Linked DNA regions of Homo sapiens. The protein of the gene in region 5 purifies or fractionates together with the protein of the main gene of each other region. This does not show direct contact. Each region holds a gene or a part of one and is shown on either strand. Other genes may lie near its edges. The genes, in order: CDC42BPA, ZNF143, PRICKLE2, SYNM, SLC9A2, FBXW8 and TMF1.

Region 1 (3,500 bases), on a different chromosome or scaffold from region 5:
CATATGGTTTTTACATCAACAACATAATCAATACTGAGGAAAAGCATTAAGAATGACTTTTTTAAAAAACTGTTATCAACAATGACAACATTTGGGAGACGAAGTAGAAGGGAAAAGGAAGAAGAGATATAAAGATAAGACAGCCGTAAGAAAGAGAATCTTACAACAAGAGGAAGGATTTGCTGGCCACATCAATTCCTGTTGTCTAGATCTTCGGCCCTGGCAGTCAGTGTATATCCCAATGCTGTTAAAACACAGCAGATATTCTTTACTGGAGATCTCAACTGCGCAGATAGCATCCATTGGTTGATGTGCAATAAATGATAGTGTATGGTCATTTGAATGGAGCATACTGTATGGATTTCCTTCTCCATTCAAGGGGTATCTTAGAAATCCTGACTGGAATCCCACACAGAGTTGTTCACTGAAGATTGCCATCCACTGGACATTATATGGGACTTGAATTTCTTTAAATTTTCTGTGACGGGTCTTGCTCTGAAATAGTTCATAACAGAGGACCTGCCTTTTCATAGCCACACACAGGCATGTGAGAGCTCCATGGCGCACCTTTCCAGAAGTTACGGTTTGACACCCTTTAGTTTCTGACAGCTTGTAAAAATCGGTCTCTCGCCCATCCAATGCTGACATAGGAAAAAGTCGTACATGACGATTTCGTCCTGAGATCACAGCAACAAGCTGATCATTTGGAATGAGTTCAATCTGATGAATCTTCTTATTGTCACCAACTCTAATAATTTCTAAACACAGAAAGAATAATAAATCAAAATATAGTTTTATTGATTAATCATATCCCAATTATACTCAAAAGGATGTAAGTCAACTTACAGATGCACATACGGAAGAATAAGACATCAGAAGTCACAGGAAAAAAAGATTATCCAACCCATCATAAGATAATTTAACTCACCTATAGTACGTATTAAATTTGAGTCCTGAGATTTCTGGCAGCCAAGGCAAACCCCAAAGGATTCTTGTGTAAAAGTATGCCAAATCTTCAAGGAAACTTTTCTACTGGCACTAAATTCTAGGGAACGTCACCATAGGATTCCCATTTTTAAAAACAGAGAACTTATTTTTCAGAAGTTTTTATATGGCTAACAATGCATTGTTTTCCCATGATCTAAGTTGACATAAAGATAAAACTTAGAATACTGTATTTATGAATACCAAGTTATATTGGTTTCTCTTTATTTCACCCAGCATTTAGTTTTTCCCTAGAAGAAAAACCTCCAAACAAACACATTTTAATAGCTGTTGCCTCTTCTGGTACTAATAGAACAATGTGAAAATCAAGTTGTATATATTTTTTTTCATGTTCCATCTTTAGAAATGCAATCTGGGCTGGGCGCAGTGGCTCATGCTTATAATCTCAGCACTTTGGGAGGCCAAGGCGGGTGGATCACCTGAGGTTGGGAGTTCGAGACCAACCTGGCCAACATGGAGAAACCTCATCTCTACTAAAAATACAAAATTAGCCGGGCGTGGTGGTGCATGCCTGTAATCCCAGCTACTGGGAGGCTGAGGCAGGAGAATCTCTTGAACCCAGGAGGCGGAGGCTGCAATGAGCCGAGTTCGTGCCACTGCACTCCAGCCTGGGCAGCAAGAGTGAAACTCTGTCTCCAAAAAAAAAAAAAGAAATGCAATCTGAGTTCGTACAGAACTGTTAAATAAAATGATACAAGAAAGACAATACATATTTGAAGTTTTAAACCTCAGGGGGATTATAGAAATTTAAAAATAATCTTTTAATTTATAAACGTCAAATTAGGTCTGGAAAATTTTAGTCGCAGGATAAATAAGAGCAAATCCTGCTCTTTGTAGAATTTAGAATCTACAGTTTAAATTTTTTTAACACGATTTAAAATTACTCCAAAAAAAAAAAGTTTTCTCTTACCATCTTTGGTGACATGTACAACAAATAACCCTTCTTCGTTTCCCAAAGCAATTCTTTCATGATCTATGTAAGACATGAATGTGAAAGATTTTTATTAGGAAAAAAACCATGTAATGCTAATAAACCAGATGATAAGAACATTTGGTGCAAAAAATGGAAATAAAATGAATTACAATAACAGTTTACACTATTTCCTTTCAGATTATACTGGTAAATCTCTCATGTCTTCTAAAATAGAACAATTATTAAAGAATAATCCATATCAATACTTACAAAAAGAAGTAAATGTTTAATAAATGATGAAACAAAATGAAAAACCTAAGTTGTTCTACACTTATTGTTTTGGGAGGTAAAAATTGTGAATGGCATTTGAACCATACTCATTGAACTTTTCAGTATTTATGGAAAGTAACAAAAGAGTTAGATGCATACACAGGAATACAGCAAAAATTTAAACCTCCAGACACAGAAACTGCCATTTGTTAAGGGGATTTCTTTCTTATGCAGGGCACTCTGTGTTATGTATTCCATCTTATTTAAACTTCCCAATAACCTCAGCAAGGTAATTACCATCTGTATTTTATATATTAAACTCTAAGAAACTAACTTGTTCTAAATCACACAAGCAGAAAATAGATTAGTAGGCTAATGCTTAGCACTGTTGTTTTTTCAGGAAAAAAAAGGCACTTTGAAAGTGTATTTATACTCCTGTTTACTGAAAAACAAAGATCTGATATAGGTCTCATTCATTCAGTAAACATGTACTGAGCATTTATGATATGATGCACAGTATGTTGGACACTGGGGATTCCTAGATGAAAGCCAATCCCTGTTCTCAAGGTAGATTAGTAAACAATGATAATAATATGATAAATGTTATAAATTCATACCTATGATTGCGGCTGCCTGGGTTGTTTTAATGAGGGGTAGAGTGCTGTCATAAGCCTCTTTGGGAACATAGACTGAGCGGTCTCTGAATTTGTTTTTCTTCAAAATCTTGTGCAATTCACTCAGCACTCCCACCCACTTATTCTTCTCATTCTCAGTGTCTGCTAGCATCAGGATTGAACATTTGTTATTAGATGCTGAGAGCTGGGAAGCTGTGACCTAGAACAATTTAATCAATATTCATGATATTAGAAAACAGACACCCTTTATGCTAGTTTCATGATTATGTTAGTTTGCTTAGCACTCACCAATAAAATAAGCATTCATTAAATGATACCATTACTGGAGTTCAGCTATTCCTAATCAGAATAACTACCTTTAGCACTAGAATACATGACAAAGCAAAGGTGGCAGACACCATTTGAAATGTTAGTATCATTTTCATTTTCCTTCTGTAAAAGTGCCAGAACACTATCACTAAAGAGGCATTAAATATATAACAACAACAACAACAACTGACATTTATTGAGTAAATACTGAGCACCAGGTAGATCTAAGCACTTTACAAGTATTAACTCATTTAACTCTGTTAACATCGTCATGATTTAGGATGTACTGTCATTATATCCTTATTTTATATATGAAAAAAATGGTGATGCAAAGAAATTAAATCATTTCTCCAAGGACATACAACTAC
Region 2 (3,500 bases), on a different chromosome or scaffold from region 5:
CTAAAAAATACAAAAAAAAAATTGCTGGGCGTGGTGATGGGTGCCTGTAGTCCCAGCTACTGGGGAGGCTGAGGGAGGAGAATGGCATGAACCCAGGAGGCGGAGCTTGCAGTGAGCCAAGATGGTGCCACTGCACTCCAGCCTGGGTGACAGAGCGAGACTCCGTCTCAAAAAACAAAAATTAGCTGCGCATGGCAGCGTGCACCTGTACTCCCAGCCTGCCGTGCCTGGCCTGCAATTTACTTGGGATTTTGATAAAATCTTCATACAGTCTGGCCATGGTGGCTCATGACTATAATCGTAGCACTTTGGGAGGCTGAGGCAGGAGGATCACTTGAGCCCAGGAGTTCAAGACCAGCCTGAGCAACATAGTGAGACCCCATCTCTATTTATTTTTACATAAATAAAAACTAAAAAAAAAAAAAATTCATACATGCAAGAGACAAAAGATGCTTACCTCAGCCAACAAAAGAGAGCTTCTTGAGCCTTTAGCTTCTATACCCATAAACTACATAAAGCCAACAGCTGACATTTCCTGGAGTGTGTTCTAACTCTTTATCAAGTAAACACGTGGGCGGAAAAAAAATCTCCCTAAGGACAGGTAATCTGCACCTAGCCCCTAGGATTCTATTTTACTTTACATTCTAATTTTTTTTTTGAGACAGGGTCTCGCTCTGTTGCCCAGGCTGGAGTACAGTGGTGCGATCTTGGCTCACTGCAGCCTCAACCTCCCTTGCTCAAGTGATCCTTCCACCTCAGCCACCTGAGTAGCTGGGACTACAGGTGCACACCACCACACCTGGCTAATTTTTGTATTTTTGTAGAGATGGGGTTTCGTCATGTTGCCTGGGCTGGTCTCTTATTTTTTGAGATGGGGTCTCATTTGTTACCCAGGCGGGAGTGCAGTGGCACAATCTTGGCTCACTGCAGCCTCAAATCTCCTGGGTACAAGTAATCCTCCTGCCTCAGCACCCCCCAAGTAGCTGGGCACTACAGGCAGCCGTCACCACACCCAGCTAATTTTTGTGTTTTTTGTAGTGATGGTTTTCACCATGTTGCCCAGGCTGGTCTCTAATTCCTAAGCTCAAGCTACCTACCTGTCTCAGCCTCCCAAAGTGCTAGGATTATAGGGATGAGCCACCATGCCCGGCTGCACCTAAGATTCTAAATTCTCTGCTTCCCAGAGAATGATTCCTTCTAAGTCTTCTGACATTCCCCACTTTAAAATGGGGGCTGTGCAAGGATTCTCAGAGGACTTATTTAGGATTTGTGTTTCCACTAGGTTTTTCTCTAAGGAGTAGCTCTTAAGTGCTTTACAGACCCCTGCCTAATTAGACTTTTATTTTGAGAGTAAAGATGCCTGGGTGGGTGCACACAGGGATATATACCTGAAGGTTTTTTTTCTTGCTATAAATTCCCCTAGAATATGCAAAGATGGGTAGAGAACAAAGTGCTGGTCTTTTTGAGTCCACCTCAAATACACCGATTTCCTTAAAGTAGGCTAGGTGATAGAGATTATTCTACACCTTGCCTCCTGTAAAGGTTATACACGAAGCACAGTGTACAAAGTTGAAAGCTATGAGCAGCACTGCTGTCGACTGAGGACAGTATGCCTTGGTACTCACCTGAACTGCAATCTGGGTGCCATTGGATGTTGCTACTAAGGTCAGAGGTCTGGTTTCTGTGGTTACTAAGTGATGGCTATGCTGCTGGTGCCCCATTTCTGATGAGGCAGTATGGAATGCTGCCAAGTCTTGAGCTACAATTGCAACCTTAAGCAAAACAAAACAAACCATACACATAAAGAATTAAACCTGCGATTTAAATAGGTTAAAGTCCACTTAATACAATGGATTTCTTCAAATTGAAAAGGAAAAACTCCTCTGACCATAGACTTGTCAAAGCCTATATTGAAAGGAGGTTTATTTGAGGAAGTTGAGGCTCATTATCTAAGGTTATGAAGTGAGCCAACGGCAAAATAGGGTAGAGAACACTGGAGAAATGGATCTGCTATGCCAGGCCCCATTAGCCAGGGAGATGTGGCTGTACCTAGATTCTATTACCCCTAAGTGACTGCTTGGGAAGTTATGTATGTGGACTAATTTGCACCTCAAATGTCCATTTTTTTTTCCTGAGATTGGCTCATAGGAGAAAATAAATGATTTTTTTCCTCTTTACTTGTCGTATTTAAAATTAGATTTCCATTTAACTAGGAAAACTGAAAGGACCAGTGGTACTACTGACAAACAGCATCTCATCTCATACTCATTTCCCATTTTAGACTCCATGGAATCTTCCCATACTCCTCTTGCAGCATCTAGCCAGGAGGATTAAAAGGGCTTTTGTGGCTCTTATACCACAAGTACAACTTTTTAAAAAAATGCAGATAACATGGAAAATGGCAATTAACTATTTCTGTTAGATGATATTCTAAAATTTTACTCAGCCAAATTCAGAGAAAGAATAGATTAAAAATGAAAACTGCTGTTTTACTTGGCTATTCATCCACTAAAAATGCTACATTTTAAGCTAATAGATATTTAGCTTGGATCAATCCCAATAATGTTCCCTAATTCTATAAGAAAAACAGATTTCATTCCAGCAATGTCTAAGTAGCTTATATTGGGCTAACCTTCCTGCAGATAACAATTATAAACCCTTGACAAAAATATGAAAAAGCAACTATATGAAGGCTTTGAGGAGCAATGACAAGCAGGAAGAAACTAGAGGGGATTCTCAAAAGAAGGGAGTCACACTGTGTTATATCTGTGTTTAAATAGATTTCACACTGAGGGCACTACCCAGTTTGAGCAGCCTGGGGCAACTTAAGGTTAAAGATAATGGAGTCCAGGGCTGCCAGAATAGCAGTACAGAGAAGAATAGCCCAGAAAGCAAAGAATTTGAGTGGGAAGCCCCCAAATCTTTGTATAAACTGTCCTCAAATCCTTTTTTTTTTTTTTTTTTTTGAGGTAGTCTCGCTCTGTCGCCCAAGCTGGAATGCAATGGCTTGATCTCAGCTCACTGCAAACTCTGCCTCCCAGGTTCAAGCGATTCTTCTGCCTCAGCCTCCCGAGTAGCTGGGATTACAGGCATGCGGCACCTCACTCGGCTAATTTTTGTATTTTTAGTAGAAACAGGGTTTCTCCAAGTTGGTCAGGCTGGTCTCGAACTCCTGACCTCAGGCGATCCACCCGCCTCGGCCTCCCAAAGCGCTGGGATTACAGACGTGAGCCCCCGCGCCCAGCCAGAATAATAATTATTATTATTATATATTTTTTGAGACGGAGTCTCACTTTGTCGCCCAGGCTGGAGTGCAGTGGCGCCGTCTTGGCTCACTGCAAGCTCCGCCTCCCGGGTTCACGCCATTCTCCTGCCTCAGCCTCCCGAGTAGCTGGGACTACAGGCGCCCGCCATCACGCCCAGCTAATTTTTTGTATTTTTTAGTAGACACGGGGTTTCACCGTGTTAGCCAGGATGGTCTCGATCTCCTGACCTCGTGA
Region 3 (3,955 bases), on a different chromosome or scaffold from region 5:
GGTGGCAAAAATTCAGCCTTGGAACTTCTGAGGAGCCAACCAGCAGGTTAAGCACATATTCAATGGCCTCCCTGGATAGAGAAGAAAATGCTCAATATCTGCACTGAAAAGAATTAAGAAAGAAAAGGACTGTCTCTCACATGCATAGGTGAAGCAGAAGAGAAATCTAGAAATGCATTGATTCCAACTGGGACCCCGCAGCTTTCTACATGTGACTTGTCAGCTGCCAAAACAGGATGCCTTCTTTAAGGCTGCCTAAGCCCCAGTTAGTTCTAAATGATTTTCATTATACCAGCTGGTCACTTTCAGTTCTGTGAAATACAGTAGTTCTGGATAATATACTTTATTCTGTCAACTCAATCAATAGGGTGGAAAGTTTCTTTGAGTGGGAATCATTTGGATATAACAGTACCAGAGATGGCATCTTTTCTGCTAGCAAAACCTTTCTGCAGGCAAATGGATGTGAACATGTTGCCTTTTCAATACTGTTTTTTAGCAACAACACTTATAATGATAATGACAAAATGGTAACAATGACAACAACAACAACAACAATAGCAGCTAATATTTACTGAATATTTACTATGTGGCTGCCACTGTGCTCTGCATAGGTCATCTCATTAAATCCTTACACCTATCACCCTAACTATAGATTCCATTGCTCTCTCCACTTTACTGGCAGGAATGGGTAGCTTTAAGTATCTTCAGCTCTTTCCAGCTCCAGAGTCTGAGCCCTGGATAAATATCATCTCATACTATCTAACCTCTAAGTTCCCTTCTCATTCTTTAAGCTTCCATAAATGCATCTTTCTTCCTCTATTTCTATTTTATTCCCTCACATTTCATGGGTAAATCTTTATAAACACACCATTTCAAACAATGCTATTTTACTCTTTCTGGCTGCCCCGTGAATCTTTATAGACTGAGATGCCCGATGGAGCCAGTATGTTTTAATTTTCACATGAAAAACAGAATTCCCAAGGGGAAGGAGCATTTGATGGAAAGGCAAAACCTTTATAAGCACTCAAGGCATTAAAATCCAAATTTCCAAAATATGGTAATTATGTCAAAGTTGTGACTTACTCTGGAGCCCTTGGGGACCCTCATCCTGACCCATCTGTGAAAGCCATCAGCAGGCAGTAAGCCTTCTGAGGAGCAGGATTACAGCAGCCAATTTGGCCTCTAGCAAAGAGGCAAGGCTGCTTCATTTAGTTTAAGTCTCACTGAGATGGTTTAAAACACTCTTTGGGAAGAGATGTGCAGGCAAAGCAAATCACAGCCTTACCAGCTGCAGATTCAGTACACGGCAGTCTATGTCTACATATTCATGGCACACTGGAGCCCTCCCCTGACTGTGCTCATACATGCATTGATATGGGAAGCAGAACTCTCTCACTGGGGAAATAATCTATGTGCCTAAGTTAGACAAGAGCCACATTTGGACCAGCGGATGGCATCACATCTGGTATGGATCGCTAACCTCAGTGTGATTTGGCCCAGCCTGGATTATTTATGATTCATAAAAGTCCCACTGGACCCCAGCATAGTCCAAGACCACATAACAAAAAACCATGGGATTAAAAATCTGTATTTCATTGCAAGACCCCCATGGCAAATTAGTAATGCTATGATTGGTTTTCGAGAAGCCAAGAGTGAGGAGAACTAACTATGATCACTCCCTCAAGAAACCCAGCATAGAGGGCAAACCGAATCATGTGTTCAGCCAGGCTATGCAGTCATATTCTGAAGCTCTGTCACCATTTCTAATCTGAAAGCAGTGTCTAAAATTAAACCTAAATAATTTGAAAGCCATTTCTTTACCTGGAAGTCTCAGCTGAGTCCTTGTTCCTCAGATCCCCTAATGGTTTCTGACATCATGTGTTGAAATGACTACTGTACATGAACGCTATCAGGTATTTGGTCTGTTAGCCCCTTTCCCCATATTATTATGGTTTTTTAAAGAAAGCTACACTTTTAGAGAAACGCTGCTTCTTCTTAAGCATCAAGATTTAAGCGTTTCTTCAGGACTCCCTAGAGCTGTGACATAACACTTTGTAATCGAGCTTTCTAATCAGCATAGAAAAGGCAAAAGGGGTCGCAGGGCCACCAAAAATGCTACCTGGCCAAGAAAACGAAGACCCAATATCCTCCCCCAGTGCAAAGGCCCTAGATCTGGCTTTCTCATCCTCCTTAGAAAATATACTGCTGTTTAATTTGTGAATTAGAGCAAATTTCTTACCCACCTCCAGGGAGGATGAAATGCCCAGTCTCGGAGGAAGCTTCTGCCAGACCCTTGGAGCTTGTCAATTGTCCCAGTTCACTTTCTCCCTGGATCTGACTTCTAAGAACGCAAGCAGGACCTCAGGCAGCCAAAGCATCTTCTCCTCAAACCCCCTTTTCAGTCTGAACCCTTCCTGAAGCTGGCAACAGACTCAAGCCGAGCTGCTCCACATTCCCTCAGGGAAAACAGCACTGCTGGATCCAGACTCTGCTGGGGAATTCACCAAGCAAGAGAAAAAAAGTATGACTTCTACTCTTCCTCTAGATCAGCCTGAGTGCTCAGATCGCCTTCCGGAGGACCCCCAGTTTCCTCTTAACTCCCCTTCTTCATGACAATCTGAAGGAAGAAGTCATAGACTCCAGCCCAGCGTCACCAGCTGATCCTGAGCCAGACCCGGGGTGACTAGTCAGCTGCTCACAGAGCTCAAGCCACTGAACCAGGAAATGTGCTGCTTGGTCAAAAAATAATAATAACTCTCGGTGGCGCTGCTGGTGGTGCCTGAGAAGTCGCTGTTGCAGTGCTTGCATCCTCCGCATGCTAATGAAGCTGTGATGTCAGCAAGTCAGTCACGGCATCTGGACGTCCCATCCTGCTGCCCAGTGCTGAGATTTATTTACATGTAAATTAGCCTTGCCTTCCAAATCAATAATCCCCAAGCCAGGGAGAGGGGAAGGAAGCCTTTGCTGGATGCAAAGGCCCAGCTACGTAACCTCCAAATGAGCATGAAAAAAATCACATATAAGAAGAGAGGCTTTAAAGACACATGCCTATTTTTTTTCTTCTTAAAAGCTGTGCTCTTAGGTGCCAAGGTTCAGATCTGGGCACAATTATCAACCTGAGCGCCTGTTTCAGATTATATGCTGCACCAACCTAGGAGTGGAATCAGAGCACTCTTTTTTTAATTAAATGCTGTGTCAAGCCTTCAAAAATGCCTCTCCTTTTTTTTTTTCTTTCTCTTCTCTCTTCAACTTTCATTTTCGGGTGTTGCTTGTTTTTTGGCCTGAGACTATGTCACCTTTGAGTTTTTGTGCACCTCGAAATAAAGCACAAGTGACTCCTTTCCTCACGTGCTTGGGTGGTGAGTCAGTCAGCTGCCCTTTAACCCCTTACCCCAATTCCAACTGCATGCAGAAGAAGACAAAGCATAAACCTTCCCAGGGCATCTGAAGACCCTGAGACCCTCAGAGAGCATTGCTTCCATCTCCTCATTTTACAGATTAGAAAATGGAGACAACTGGAGAAAGGACTTTTCTAAAGTCACACCAGGATTTCAGCAAGGATGGGTCAGAATCCACATTTCCTAGACCTCAGATAGAGCTTTTGTTGAATACCTTTGGGGTCTCCGAGCTCCATTTTTATACACCACTAGGCGGCCTAACCAAGCAATCTGGAAGAAAGGAATCTATACATTTGGAGAGCCCTGTGTTCAAATCCTGCCTTTCCTTCCTGCTAGCAGTGTGATCTTAGGCAAGTAACTTAACTTGTGGGATCTTCAATAACCTCATCTGTACCATTCACTCATTCAATAAATATTTACTAAGCACGTACTCTATGCCATGCACAGCTCTAAAGGCTAGGTATAAACACAGTCTCTGCTTTCAAGGGCCTTATGGGCTACTGCAATTAAAGAAAGTAAAATATTGAATAGAACTATGGTGAAGATTAACACAATAT
Region 4 (3,500 bases), on a different chromosome or scaffold from region 5:
TGCATATCCCAGAGAGGTCAGAGGTGCTCGTTTTTGTGGCTGAAATTTCACAATCTTATATTTTGAAATCATTAATTTCTGCTTTTTGAGGTAAGTTTAATTTACTGTAGCAGAGAAGAGCTCTGTAATTACAAAGTGTGTCATTATTAAACACCAAATAGCATTATCCTCCACTATTTAATATACTCTTCTGTTTCACTGATTTCCATATTGGGCCAACAAGTATTAAAGAATTTAACTTCTTTAAGCTTTCTGATCTTTTATTTTACATTTAACACTTATCTGAAAAGGAGCCAGTGCAGAAACACCCCGGTCTGTCTTAGTGTCATGATCCTGAAGTTGGGAGGCAGTCCTCAGGGCTTCCAGCTTTGCTCCAGGCTGTTTGCAGACAGTGCTACCCTTTGGGGTGTCCACACCCCAGCAGGGGAAACCGCTCTTTAGGAATGGCAGCTGGTGGTTAGAACGCAGCCAGGAGCACCGTCCACCCCGAGAGTGCCCCTGGTGTCTACCCACACCCCAGCTGGCTCAGCGGGGACAGGGCTTTCTCTCTCCCTTATGGAGCCAAGGCCAGAGGCCTCCTTTGCACAGATCCCAAGATACAGGAAAGAGACCAGGCCAGGACATTTTCTACAAGACTCCTCTTTTCAGGTCAACTGATCCTACTGATCCAACTGAGAAGTCCCAGAAGATGAACCCCCAGGCAATAGTGCAGGGACCATCTCATTTACAGTTAAGATTCAACAAGAAACATGGAAGATTACAGACTGGGTTTAGGTCCACCGGCTAGCGGGCAAGCGGCCAACATTATTTTATGCAATATTATAAAAGAAACACAAGCACACTAACAAGTATTGATAAGTTCACTACTTAGGAACTTATCTGTATATTTACTCAACAGAACAGAACTATCTAGAAGCTCAACGTCTAATAAAAATTCCCAACTAGTAATTTTTATTCTAAAGCTTTTGGCATAATATGTAATTGCCAGAATAAATTTAGTTTACAAATATTAAGTCTCTATTTCCTTCAAGAAGCTTGAAAAATAATGAATGAATGAATGAATGAATGAATGAATGAAGCAAGTTAACAGCAACAGCTGTTAGCCCCTCTGTGTGCTCTCCCTCGGCCCCAAAATCACAACTGGGAAAATTTGAGCAAGGCCCTGGCTTAGACTGTTGGTCTTCCTCGGAGCTCCTGGGCCCTTTTCTTCCTTCTCCCCTCTCTCTAGGTTACATGATGGATGTCCAAACTTAGGTATCCACAGGTTAAAAATGTAGGTAACTAAGTAAACCTTGAAATCTGGGGAGTTAATTCTTGTTTTATAGATGTCACACGTTAACTGATGCCAGGCAGGTTGACCAATGCCTACCCTTCCATGAACACCTTTGCTTTTTTCAAACTTACTCTCAAAATTAGAAAGAAAATTTGCTGCATGTTGTCTAAGACCAGATCCCTTCCAGTTATAGATGACTAGAACCCAAATATTCTTCTCAACCCAGTGACATGTCAAATCCATGAGTTGCCTAAAAGAAACAATGAAGACTAAAACCATGCTGCTGCCTAAGGTGTGAACTCAACATTCTATACGTAATTTAATCGACACTTGCTTAGCCAGAGCTCTTCAAGATTCTATAGGGCTTTAAAAGGTTAAAAAACAAGTTATCCCTCAGTTTCTTAGGATCTTTCTAATGAACATTAATGATCTTATGTCAGTTCTGCAGCCATAGGAAGGATGGGCCCTGTCCTGAGGCTCTTGGCCTCAATAAGGTAGTCTTCAAGGCACCAGGACACATTTTCCTGAGCTGCTCACAACAACCTAGGGTGGTGTAAACAATGTAACTATTCCCATCTCTCTTCCTGTTAGGGTAGCAGGTTCCAGAGTGCTGCCTGCCTGCCATCCAAGGCCATACCTCCCTCTACAGGTGTAACAACCATAACCCCTTGGTCTGGAAATGGAAGGAGTGTCCCTTCCAGGGGTGTGAAACACAAGTTCAGGTGCACTCCTGCTCGCCCTCACACTGCCCAGTGCCATTAGCCCCTTCCGCTCCTGCATCCTGTCGAGAGAGGGACCAAGTTTATCAAGCACCTTCCCAAACATTCTCATTCACATAATTGAAATTATGTCACACTAAACTAAAATCTATTTGGTACTTAAATGAGAGATGAACTCCTGTTATCTAAACACCATATCTAACCCGTTCTTCCCGATGATGGTGCTTTACTATCTAGCCACAGAATAAACAGTTCAGATGCCTAAAGCTAAGTCAAGTCATTAGCTTTTACTTACCTGACGGCATGTTTTCAACGTGCTCAGCCCAGATCACTATCTCTGGATTACTTTCTCCTTCCAATAAGGCCCTGTAAAAATAATTTACAAACATAATTCATTAGGAAACGAAAGAGTAAGAAGTGCCTCTAATAAAACGTATCGTGGTATGCGGCCAATGACCATAGTGTCACCTGTTTTAGGACTTCTACCTGAAGAGGAGACTTGGGCAGGGCTGCACCATAGGGCTGGCAAGCCCACCCACCAGCCTCAGCAGACCTGGGCCAGGCCACCTGCTCTGCTCACCGCCACATCCCTGGCAGCCAGCATGGCGCTCAACCCCTACTAGCCCAGTGAACAAAATGACCAGGCCAGGGCTTCGGCAGTACTGGCGAGCCAAGCCCTTCTAGAAAGCTTTCTCAGTCCAGGGTGAAGAGGAGCAGGAGCAAGGGGGCACTGGAGAGATGTGGGCCCCAGGCTAGAGGGCCCCAGAGCAGCTACACCCCCCACTGGGTTCTTCCTGGAGTCACAGCTGGTGGGGGCAGCTTGCAGAGGGCTGACCAGGAGACGGCAGGGACTGACACTTATAAGGCAGCCAGACTGCATCTGTGGTTTCAAACTGCATTCCAGGGGGTCACCTTGGAGACGACAAAAAGAAGTAGAAGGCAGGCAGACGGAAAAGGTAGTGCTAAAGCGCCCCCCGTCAGTAGCCCCTCCCCATGCCACCCCCAGGGGCCTCACTTCATCCAAATTGGCATCCTGTTATCTCCTTTAATAAAATGGTGAGAAGTACCCAACAAGGTGATTTCTTTGACTATGTCTGCGCCAAAGTTCTAAAATTATAGAAGTTTCATTAGGTTGTTCACGTCTACTGCTTCAGATCCCAGAGCTGAGGAGAGTGGTCCCAGCAGACCCAGCCTGCTGGCGAGGGGCTTAGCACCGGGATGCCTGTCAGCCAGTCACTCGCGAAGACCCCTTGGGCTGCTGGCAGCTCTGGGTGCAACAGTTTCTCAGTTGCTAGAGCAACATGTGAAGTCACTAACTCCGGTTCCAAGAAATACACTGCACACGGCAAAAGGCATCCAGAACAAGAGCCCACTGAGAAATGCCAATCTTATGGCTGAGAGCTGGGCACAAAAACGGAGCAGGGTGCCCACACCCGAGCAGGGACTTGGCAGCTTGGACAAACTGCACTGAGTTGTATTTCCATCTGTTGAAACATGGTGAGCCCCAT
Region 5 (3,500 bases):
GCATTTCTCTGATGGCTACTTTAAAGTTCATATGGAACCAAAAAAGAACCCACATTGCCAAGTCAATCCTAAACCAAAGGAACAAAGCTGGAGGCATCACGCTACCTGACTTCAAACTATACTGCAAGGCTACAGTAACCAAAACAGCATGGTACTGGTACCAAAACAGACATATAGACCAATGGAGCAGAACACAGCCCTCAGAAATAATACCACATATCTACAACTATCTGATCTTTGACAAACCTGACAAAAACAAGAAATGGGGAAAGGATTCCCTATTTAACAAATGGTGCTGGGAAAACTGGCTAGCCATATTTAGAAAGCCAAAGCTGGATCCCTTCCTTACACCTTATACAAAAATTAATTCAAGATGGATTAAAGACTTAAATGTTAGACCTAAAACCATAAAAACCCTAGAAGAAAACCTAGGCAATACCATTCAGGACATAGGCATGGGCAAGGACTTCATGTCTAAAACACCGAAAGCAATGGCAACAAAAGCCAAAATTGACAAATGGGATCTAATTAAACTAAAGAGCTTCTGCACAGCAAAATGAACTACCATCAGAGTGAACAGGCAACCTACAGAGTGGGAGAAAATTTTTGCAATCTGCTCATCTGAAAAAGGGCTAATATCCAGAATCTACAAAGAACTCAAACAAATTTACAAGAAAAAAACATACAACCCCATCAACAAGTGGGCGAAGGATATGAACAGACACTTCTCAAAAGAAGACATTTATGCAGACAACAGACACATGAAAAAATGCTCATCATCACTGGCCATCAGAGAAATAATAGATATTTTTATCACCAAATGAAAATGTTACATTATATCCACTTTAACAATGATAACAATACTCAGCTTTATTTCTTACAGAATTATTTCACCTAGATTGAATCCCTAAGAAGTATACAATGAACTGTTTGCATAAAACCATTTGTTCTGGCTGGGTATTGTAGCTCACAACTGTGATGTCAGCACTTTGTGGGGCTGAGGTGAGAGGATCACTTGAGGCCAGAAGTTTGAGACCAGCCTGGGCAACATAGTGAGGCCCAATCTCTTCAAAATGTTAACAACAACAACAACAACAACAATAACAACAACAAAAAGCCAGGTTTGGTGGCCTGTGCCTTTAGTCCCAGTGACTCAGGAGCTAGTCAGGAGGATCACTTGAGCTCAGGAGTTCAAAGTTACAGTGATCTGCGATGATGCCACTGCACTCCAGTGGGAGTGGGCAAAGACAGATGGAGACCTGCTCTCTTAGAAACAAAAAAAACAAACTGTTCCTTGGGTGATATAAAAACTCACCTGTAAAAGCAAGTGAATTGATGGTTTTGGTATATGGATAGATTTTAACCAGTGAGTCCGTGGCTTTAATGTTTATAGTTTTATTTGGTTTATCTGTGTCTTCTGGGGTCAATTTTGGTAATTTGTATTTTTTATAAAATTATTATTTTGAGTTTTTAAAAATTTATTGGAAGTTATTTTATGATTTAAAAGATCTCCACTTTATATGCATTTATGTTCTCCTTTCTGTTTCTAATATTGTTATGTTTTTCTTTTTTTCACCTTGATCAGGTATGCAGGAGTTTGTCTATTTGATACTTTATCAAAGAATTAGCTTTTGGTTAGCTTCTAAGTTATCTGCTTCTGCTCTTACATTTATGATTTACTTACTTCAGCTTTCTTTGGGTTTATTTATTTAATTAATCCTTGAATTAAAAACTTAACCCATTAATTGTTTGGTTTACTTATGTTCTGTTAATATTGTTAATTCCCGCCTTACAAGAGTAAGAAACACCAATATTTAAAAACATAATTAATATTATTTTCAATAGTTTCTCTGCTGGTATTTTTATGAATCCCTGAGCTCCAAAATTGACATGCACTTATGCTAAAGTGACATCAGTCTTATTAAAATGAACAAAATTACTTCAGTAGCTTACTTACTTATTGAAACTCCTAATAAGACAATTCCCCTTATCAATTTATCCCAAATATGGGTATTTGCTTGTTTTCATTAAATTCAAATCTATGATATACTGTACACTTAAGACTCTGTCACAAACTAAACGTATTCATAATACTCAAAGTTTATGTAAATTCATCTTTAATACAAATAATAATAACAATAAAGAGAATGGTAAAGACAAAAGATATAAGGAAAATTATGCAAATGACATATCAGTTTCTGAATAAATTGCATGATGTCTTTACTGCTGTTAAGTAGGAAACCATGGGTGTTCTGAAAGGATTTCTTAACACAACATACCAATGATAAAACTGGAATGATGACTGCTTTTGATGGATCTCATCTCAGGATGCTCAGAGTCCACAAAATCAGTTTGATCTTCATGGAGCCAAAGGAATGCTTCATGAACTAAAATAGGATTATTCAATGAAACTCTTCTCAAAGATGAATTCTCATGATCCAAATGGGTAAATTTTGGAAGAACGGCAATATATGTATTTAAGGCTAGAAATATACCCCTTTTTTCCTACTTTAATTGTATTGCATAGGTTTGATATGCGGGGTTTCCACTGTCACTCAGCTCTCGGTATTTTTAAACCCCCTTGTGATATTTTATTCTGACTCAATAATTAGTTAGAATTTTACTTCTCAGTTAATAAACTTATGGAGATTTGGGGTTTTTGTTGTCATTGTCAGTTTTAGAGATAGGTTCTCACTATGTTGCCTTGGCCGCTCTCAAACTCCTTAGCTCAAATGATTCTCCCGCCTAAGCCTCCCAAGTAGCTGTAACTATAGGCATGCACCACCATGCCCAGTTGTTTTTTATTTTATTGACATTTTAATGCATTTTGGCTAGATAGGTATAATGCTGATTTTTAGTGTTGATTGTGATATCCTTTATGGCTTATTTTATGGACATTTTAAAACTATATTTTCCATTTATACTTGAAAAAACAATGTGTATTCTCTATTTATTGTGTACAGGATTTTATATACTTAGATGTATACATATGCAGACACATAGAGACTAGGTCAAATTTCTAATTACGGTGTTAAAATCTTCAATAGCATTACCAGTTTTTTGGTTACTTTATCAGTTCCTGGGGTACATTAAAATCACTTCTAAAATTGTGATGTCAATTACCATTTGTAATTGTTTCAATTTTTGCTTTGTTTTGATGCTATGTTATTACATACTCATTCAATATTGTTACATCTCCAGAGTGAGTTCTTCCTTTAATTATTAAGTTTTTAACTTCCTTATTTCCAGTACTTGTGGCTCAAAGTGTATTTTTTCATATAAAACTATTACCATTTAAAAGAAAACTTGATTTTGCGCATGTACTTTTTTTCCATATCTGTTTTCTATATCTACATTTTCCAGATGTATATTTTTATACCTATACTATCAAATGAGTTATGTTATTTTCATTTGGCTAGGCCTCATTAAACCACATAGATCTGGATTTTGCATCTTTAATTTCACATTTTAAAACACCGTAGCTTAAAAAGAGAAATGTA
Region 6 (2,849 bases), on a different chromosome or scaffold from region 5:
GCCTCTGTCCCTGTGCGGTCCAGGCTTGTCCCCCACGTGGTCACTGTTTTCACCAGCACAAGGCTGACAGACACATGGTCTCCTGCCCAGAACTCACTGACTTGCTCAAGGCCTCACCTGCAGTGCCTGCTGCCAGGCCCCAGTCTGGCTGTTGTTTGGTCACTGTCATGTACCTCCCGCTGTCCGCTTCAGTCTCTTCAGCCCAGGTCCTCGCCTGCCTGACAGGGTGCCGTCAGTCCTCCAGGCTGCAGGCCTCCACCAAGCCTGCCCTCCCTCCCCGGGTCTTTCTCATCCTCCAGGTCCCATGCCAGGTCCACCAACACTTTCCTTCAGTCCTCCAGGCTGCAGGCCTCCACCAAGCCTGCCCTCCCTCCCCGGGTCTTTCTCATCCTCCAGGTCCCATGCCAGGTCCACCAACACTTTCCTTCAGTCCTCCAGGCTGCAGGCCTCCACCAAGCCTGCCCTCCCTTCCCGGGTCTTTCTCATCCTCCAGGTCCCATGCCAGGTCCACCAACACTTTCCTTCTGTGGGTGTCCCAACCCCAGGGAGGCAGGGACTGCTTCCCAGCTTCCCTCACTTCCAAGAATCCTTTGCTTTAGTCAAGGAGAGCAGCCCTGGCCCAGCCCACACAGGCCTCGTCCCCTCCTGTGCACCCCTCCCAGCCCACAGCACCTCCTGCTCCTCCCAGCACTTAACTCTGGGTCACACATTCTTTGTAGCTTGTAACATCGCTCGTGCTACAGAAACAATGGTCATGTTTTCTGGGACTGCATCTTACCTTCTTCACTAGCTAGGGCTCTCCCTGGGCCAGGCATCCACCTGGATGAGACATCTTTTTAATCCAGTGTCTCCTAGCTCAGTGCCGTGACCACAGCCGGTACTGCATGAAAGTTTCAGAATGAACGCAAACCTCTGTTCAAGAGACTTGGAACCATTTTGTTCCAAGATTTTCCGAACGTGCTTTCACCACCCAGGGTACGTGTGTCATTGCAGCCCTATGAGCAGGATGTGGGGGGCACCTTCATGGATCAACAGTGAACGTGCCCCCAGTGCTCCATAGATGATGGAGAGCCTGGCTGGGAAAGCTCAAGGGACTTGCCCAGGGAGGCAGCGATGGGCCAGTCTCTGTTGCATGTGGCTGATTCGTCTGCAGTAGGGTGTGCCCTTTATGTCTGGAATGTACCAGGTTGTGGGGGCAGATGCCAGCATGCGTACGGGGCATGCAGACCTGTTTACAAAGTCATGCCCAAAGCGTGGCCTGCTCACCTGAGCTTCGGGAACTGAGGTGAGACACTGCTTCCATGGGGGCCCTGTTCCCTCTGTGAAAGAGAAGCTTAGCTTTATGGGTTCTAGAATCCCCTGCAGCTCTGAACTCCCAGGCCTGCGGCAGCAAGTGCAGGCCCAGTGGACGCCCCCTTACGAGCTCTCTCCCACTGCCTTCCAGGCACCCGGTGCAGCACATCTCATTCAGCAGCCACAGCCTCATCACGGCCAACGTGCCTTACCAGACGGTAATGCGAAACGCCGACCTGGACAGCTTCACTACTCACAGGAGGTTAGTGGTGGGGCCGGGCGAGTAAGAGACCATCTTAGTTTGACTGATGTATAGAACCCCACCCCCCCCGCCGTGACACATTGCACCCTATGGGCTATACCCTCAGGCAGGGCCCTGCCTTTCTGCGAATTGGAAACATAAACGTGGATGCTGACCTGTACTGAGCACCCAGCATCTGATGCAGGACAGCCCCGTGGGGCGAGTCCACGCTGTCGGCTGTACAGAGAGGGAGGGCAAGCCGTATGCTGAGGGGCCTGCTGTGGTTAGAATCCTGTCAGGGGCAAGGCCCGCCCTCTTGAGTCCTTGCCCTGTGACACTCACTGCGCCCATCGGACTTGTGCACCCCCACGTTGACCGCTAAGCCGGGGACTGTGAGTATCTGACGCTGTGTGCCCAGAGAACGCGTTTGTGAAGCTGAACCTCTATCTGGTCTCAGGCGAACGCCTCCTGCACAGACAGAAGCGGCTGGGGTGAGGGCCAGCGAGGCAGCCCTGACCTGTCACCATCTTTGTGCTCTTTCTAGACACCGGGGGCTGATCCGCGCCTATGAGTTTGCGGTGGACCAGCTGGCCTTCCAGAGCCCTCTCCCTGTCTGCCGTTCATCCTGTGACGCCATGGCCACTCACTACTACGACCTCGCACTGGCCTTTCCCTATAACCATGTTTAGGGATGTGCCTCAGTTGGGAGCAAGGAGAAAAATGGGAAGAACCAGTTTTATCCATCTTAAAACGCCAGGCACCTCTTCACAGGTGGTAAACATTTAGGGGAAGAAAGCAGCCCAGGGTGCCATGCCTGACAGCACGCATCTCCCTGACCCCTGCACTTCCCCCAGCGCCTGGGGCAAGCTGGCGTGTGCCAGGGCTCGAGTCCCACGTGCTGCCAACTCAAACATAGCCTCCTTCCCCACCCAGCTGGCCACCCTGGCCTCAGCTCCCTCAGGACGCCTCAGGGATCTCGCTGCGCGGTCCTATACGGTCCCTGCTTAGCCAGCTTCTGTGTGTCCGCCCTCCCAGCTCCAGCCCTGCAGGCCGTCTTTTCCGTCTCCAGCCCCTTACCTCTTTTCCTCCGAGGGCCTTTGGATGTGCTTGTTCCTGGCCTCCAAGGCAATAACCTCCATGTCCTTTTCCCTGTATTTACTTGGGGTGCTCTTCTGTGACACTTGCCACCACCACCTTCCAGTAGCAAGCTGGTAGAGCTGTACTTTTTCTTCACAGCTTTTACCATGGTTTATAATTATATACTTATACAGTTTAGTCATCAATGACTATTTTGCTTACTATTGTGTCTATGATA
Region 7 (3,500 bases), on a different chromosome or scaffold from region 5:
TTTTCTTACTTGTATGCACTATCCAGGGCAGCCTGAATACTTCGGTTCTTTTCTTCAAGTTCATCCATGTCTACCTGAAGACGGCCAAGATCTTTCTCTTGGCGTTCTACCATGGAATTTAGTTTTTTAATATTTTCTCTATGTTGTTTCTCAACCTCTTCTTTGCCATCAAGGACCTATATGTTATAAAAACAGACAAAAGTATTTTTCAAGAAATAATACCATGGTAAATAACTGTATTCCAGGAATCTATAATAATGGAGAAAAATATATATTTTTTTGAGACAAAGTCTCGCTCTATTGCCCAGGGTGGAATGTTCTGGCTCACTGCAACCTCTGCCTCCCAGCTTCAGGCAATTTTCGTGCCTTAGCCTCCCAAGTAGCTGGGACTACAGATGTGCACCACCACGCCCGGCTAATTTTTGTATTAGGTTGGTGCAGTATTTTTAGCAGAGACAGGGTTTCGCCTTGTTGACCGGGCTGATCTCAAACTCCTGGCCTCAAGTGATCTGCCTGTCGCAGCCTCCGAAAGTGTTGGGATTACAGGCGTGAGCCACCCCACTCGGCTAAAAAATCTTATCATTTATCTATTGTTTGAAAAATCCTTCTTACATGATATACCCCATTAAATCTTTTCAAATGCTCCATAACCATGGCCAACTGTTCATACAGGAAGTAATAACAATATATATGTAGAGAATTATGATTGCTATTCACCTGTTTCAAATGCTGCAACTCCTCTTCTAGCTCTTTAACTTTTTTGTTCAGCTTTGCAACCATATTTTCATTCTCCTTGTCTTTAGCTCTTAATTTCTTGATGATGTTAGAATTGTGCAGCTGCTGTTTTGAAAGTTTTTCTCCTGGTGATGGTAAAGAAGTATAAACTCAAATGATAACTATTCCCTAAAAATCTCAATAGAATGTTTTATCTAATAGTAACATAAAAGAACAGAATTTTTTTAAATTACAATTTTGTAACCCACAATGTTACAACTAATTTGGACAGCAATCATCAATGAATGTTAAAATTATTGGGTAAAAGGTTGTTGGGAACTGGATATTGACACGGTCTTAAAGAATCACTCTCATATATCACCTACTAATTTTAAAGAGAAAAATCTGGCAGTCAACTCCTTAACTAAGCATTCAGTTTTGGCATCACCAATTGTAGTACAGCCTGACAATATGTGTCTGCTGATGTGATATAGTTGTTCAATATCACCCAGATATTTCCTACTAGAAATATGAACTAAATCTAATTTAAATCTCATCATGAAGAAAGTAACAAATTCCCGAACATGGGTGGGACATCCTGTGGGACAACTGCCCTAGACTCTACAGAGTCCTCAAAGACATAAAGAAGAGAGAACTGTCCTAGACTGATGGAAGACTAAAAGGACATAACAATCAAATGCAATGGGCAAACTTTGGATCCTGGGGCAGAACAAATGATCAATTATAACAGACACTTTTAGAGACAACTAGGATTAATATTAAAATATATGCTGGATTACACTTCTGAATTAATGCTGATTTCTTAGGTTTGACTATGATGTACCTGTCAAGGAAAACGTACTTGCCCTTGGGAGATGTAGACTGAAGAATTTAGGAGCAGAATGTTACGGTATTTGTAACCTCCTTTCAAATGAGTTGACAAAAGGGTAGTGTATGTATGTGCAGAAAGATATGGAAGAGTTGTGGCAAGATGTTAACACCTGATGAATCTAGGTGATGAAGTAATCAGGTATTCATTGTAGTGTGCTTTCAGCTTTGAGTTTTACAGCTCTTTAGCTTTAAGTTTTAAAAATACTGGCCGGGTGCAGTGGCTCACGCCTGTAATCCCAGCACTTTTGGGAAGCAGGCGGATCACCAGAGGTCAGGAGTTCAAGACCAGCCTGGCCAACATGGTGAAACCCCATCTCTACTAAAAATACAAAAACTAGCTAGGCGTGGTGGCAGGTAGCTATAGTCTCAGCTATTCGGGAGGCTGAGGCAGGAGAATTGCTTGAACCTGGGAGGCGGAGGTTGCAGTGAGCCGGGATCATGCCACTGTACTCCAGCCTGGACAACACAGTGAGACTCTGTTTCAAAAAAAAAAAAAAAATTTTTCTGGGGCACGCGGAAACAATATATAATACCCTTTTGTGAAATGTAAATACTCTGTGAATATAAAATACTCCCATGTGAAATTGCTCTATTTTCTCTGTAAAAAGGTTCATTAAGCAAAAGAAGACATCAGTTCATTCTCTGACAAAATTATTAAATTACAAAATAATAACATTCGATATTAATATTTCAAATAACTCTTTTAAAATAAGAAAACCATGCAGTTAGCCTTCCCCTCAGTCTCTGATATTGTAAGGCAAGGCAGTTAATGACTTCAAGACATCTTGAGAAAATAATTATAACAACAGTTCCTTCATTTTTCTATTTTAGTGCTTAGAATTGTGTTTTATCATTATCTGTGTTCCTATATTTCCCTCTCACTGAACTAAGCCCCTAAAGGACAGAGTGTCATACTTATTATTGTATCAAACATAGTATCTGACATACTAACCGTTCAATAAATATTAGTTGAATAAATGAAAAAGTTGGATAAAGCTAACTTTCAAATGAAATGACTGCTTCCAACTGTTCTCAAACGCTACCCTTTCTCTGGAAATTTACTTAAGTTCAGTGATTTAAGCACAAAAACATTCATCCTACCACTAACTATATTATTAACATTATAAAAATAAATGTACAACACTAGAAATAGTAAAACATATTATGGTATACCCATATAATGGACTTTAATACAGCCACTAATAATGATAAAAAGCATTTAATGGCATAGAGAGATGTAAGAGAAGGAAGATTGGAAATTAAATATATGATCTTAAATATGTTTAAAAATGCATTAAAAAATACATTAAAACTAGAAAAAATTAATAGTTCCTTATAATATTGGATTATAATCTACTTTTCCTCTTTATTCATATACTTTCCTATAACTTCAAAACTTTCTACAAGTAGCAAGTATTACTCTTATAACTACAAAAACTTTAATTAACAAGAGAAATAAAAAGAGAGATTCACTTGACCACGTTTTCCAAAGGCTCCTCTCTCCCAGGATATTACATGAAGAAATTAATTCAGTATCCATTTGTAATGATTTATTTCATGAATAGATCTTTAATTTCTGTAATGCTATTAATTTTATTTTATTTATTTATTTTTTTGAGACAAAGTCTCACTCTGTCGCCCAGGCTGCAGTACAGTGGCGTGATCTTGGCTCACTGCAACCTCCACCTCCCAGGCTCAAGCAATCCTCCTGCCTCAGCCTCCTGAGTAGCTGGGATTAGAGGCACGCACCACCACCACCCGGCTAATTTTTGTATTTTTAGTAGAGACGGGGTTTCACCATGTTGGCCAGGCTTGTCTCGAACTCCTGACCTTAAATGATCCACCCACCTCTGCCTCCCCAAGTGCTGAGATTACAGTCATAAGCCACCACACTC

Evidence for each region.
Region 1: the proteins of SLC9A2 (region 5) and CDC42BPA purify together in Homo sapiens (affinity purification with mass spectrometry; one large-scale study listed by BioGRID and IntAct). This does not show direct contact.
Region 2: the proteins of SLC9A2 (region 5) and ZNF143 purify together in Homo sapiens (affinity purification with mass spectrometry; one large-scale study listed by BioGRID and IntAct). This does not show direct contact.
Region 3: the proteins of SLC9A2 (region 5) and PRICKLE2 purify together in Homo sapiens (affinity purification with mass spectrometry; one large-scale study listed by BioGRID and IntAct). This does not show direct contact.
Region 4: the proteins of SLC9A2 (region 5) and SYNM purify together in Homo sapiens (affinity purification with mass spectrometry; one large-scale study listed by BioGRID and IntAct). This does not show direct contact.
Region 6: the proteins of SLC9A2 (region 5) and FBXW8 purify together in Homo sapiens (affinity purification with mass spectrometry; one large-scale study listed by BioGRID and IntAct). This does not show direct contact.
Region 7: the proteins of SLC9A2 (region 5) and TMF1 purify together in Homo sapiens (affinity purification with mass spectrometry; one large-scale study listed by BioGRID and IntAct). This does not show direct contact.

What each region holds. Positions count from the first base shown.
Region 1 is NC_000001.11:227,028,493-227,031,992, forward strand, and holds part of CDC42BPA (serine/threonine-protein kinase MRCK alpha), read right to left. Parts: intron 3,023-3,500; coding exon 2,806-3,022; intron 1,979-2,805; coding exon 1,916-1,978; intron 759-1,915; coding exon 165-758; intron 1-164. UniProt on the Homo sapiens protein: Serine/threonine-protein kinase which is an important downstream effector of CDC42 and plays a role in the regulation of cytoskeleton reorganization and cell migration. Regulates actin cytoskeletal reorganization via phosphorylation of PPP1R12C and MYL9/MLC2.
Region 2 is NC_000011.10:9,523,512-9,527,011, reverse strand, and holds part of ZNF143 (zinc finger protein 143), read right to left. Parts: intron 1,773-3,500; coding exon 1,626-1,772; intron 1-1,625. UniProt on the Homo sapiens protein: Transcriptional activator. Activates the gene for selenocysteine tRNA (tRNAsec). Binds to the SPH motif of small nuclear RNA (snRNA) gene promoters. Participates in efficient U6 RNA polymerase III transcription via its interaction with CHD8.
Region 3 is NC_000003.12:64,222,667-64,226,621, forward strand, and holds the start of PRICKLE2 (prickle-like protein 2), read right to left. Parts: upstream 2,801-3,955; 5' UTR 2,244-2,800; intron 1-2,243.
Region 4 is NC_000015.10:99,125,580-99,129,079, reverse strand, and holds part of SYNM (synemin), read right to left. Parts: intron 2,359-3,500; coding exon 2,288-2,358; intron 1-2,287. UniProt on the Homo sapiens protein: Type-VI intermediate filament (IF) which plays an important cytoskeletal role within the muscle cell cytoskeleton.
Region 5 is NC_000002.12:102,626,053-102,629,552, forward strand, and holds part of SLC9A2 (sodium/hydrogen exchanger 2 precursor), read left to right. Parts: intron 1-3,500.
Region 6 is NC_000012.12:117,025,950-117,028,798, forward strand, and holds part of FBXW8 (F-box/WD repeat-containing protein 8), read left to right. Parts: intron 1-1,444; coding exon 1,445-1,555; intron 1,556-2,078; coding exon 2,079-2,223; 3' UTR 2,224-2,849. UniProt on the Homo sapiens protein: Substrate-recognition component of the Cul7-RING(FBXW8) ubiquitin ligase complex, which mediates the ubiquitination and subsequent proteasomal degradation of target proteins.
Region 7 is NC_000003.12:69,038,834-69,042,333, forward strand, and holds part of TMF1 (TATA element modulatory factor), read right to left. Parts: intron 861-3,500; coding exon 718-860; intron 177-717; coding exon 10-176; intron 1-9. UniProt on the Homo sapiens protein: Potential coactivator of the androgen receptor. Mediates STAT3 degradation. May play critical roles in two RAB6-dependent retrograde transport processes: one from endosomes to the Golgi and the other from the Golgi to the ER.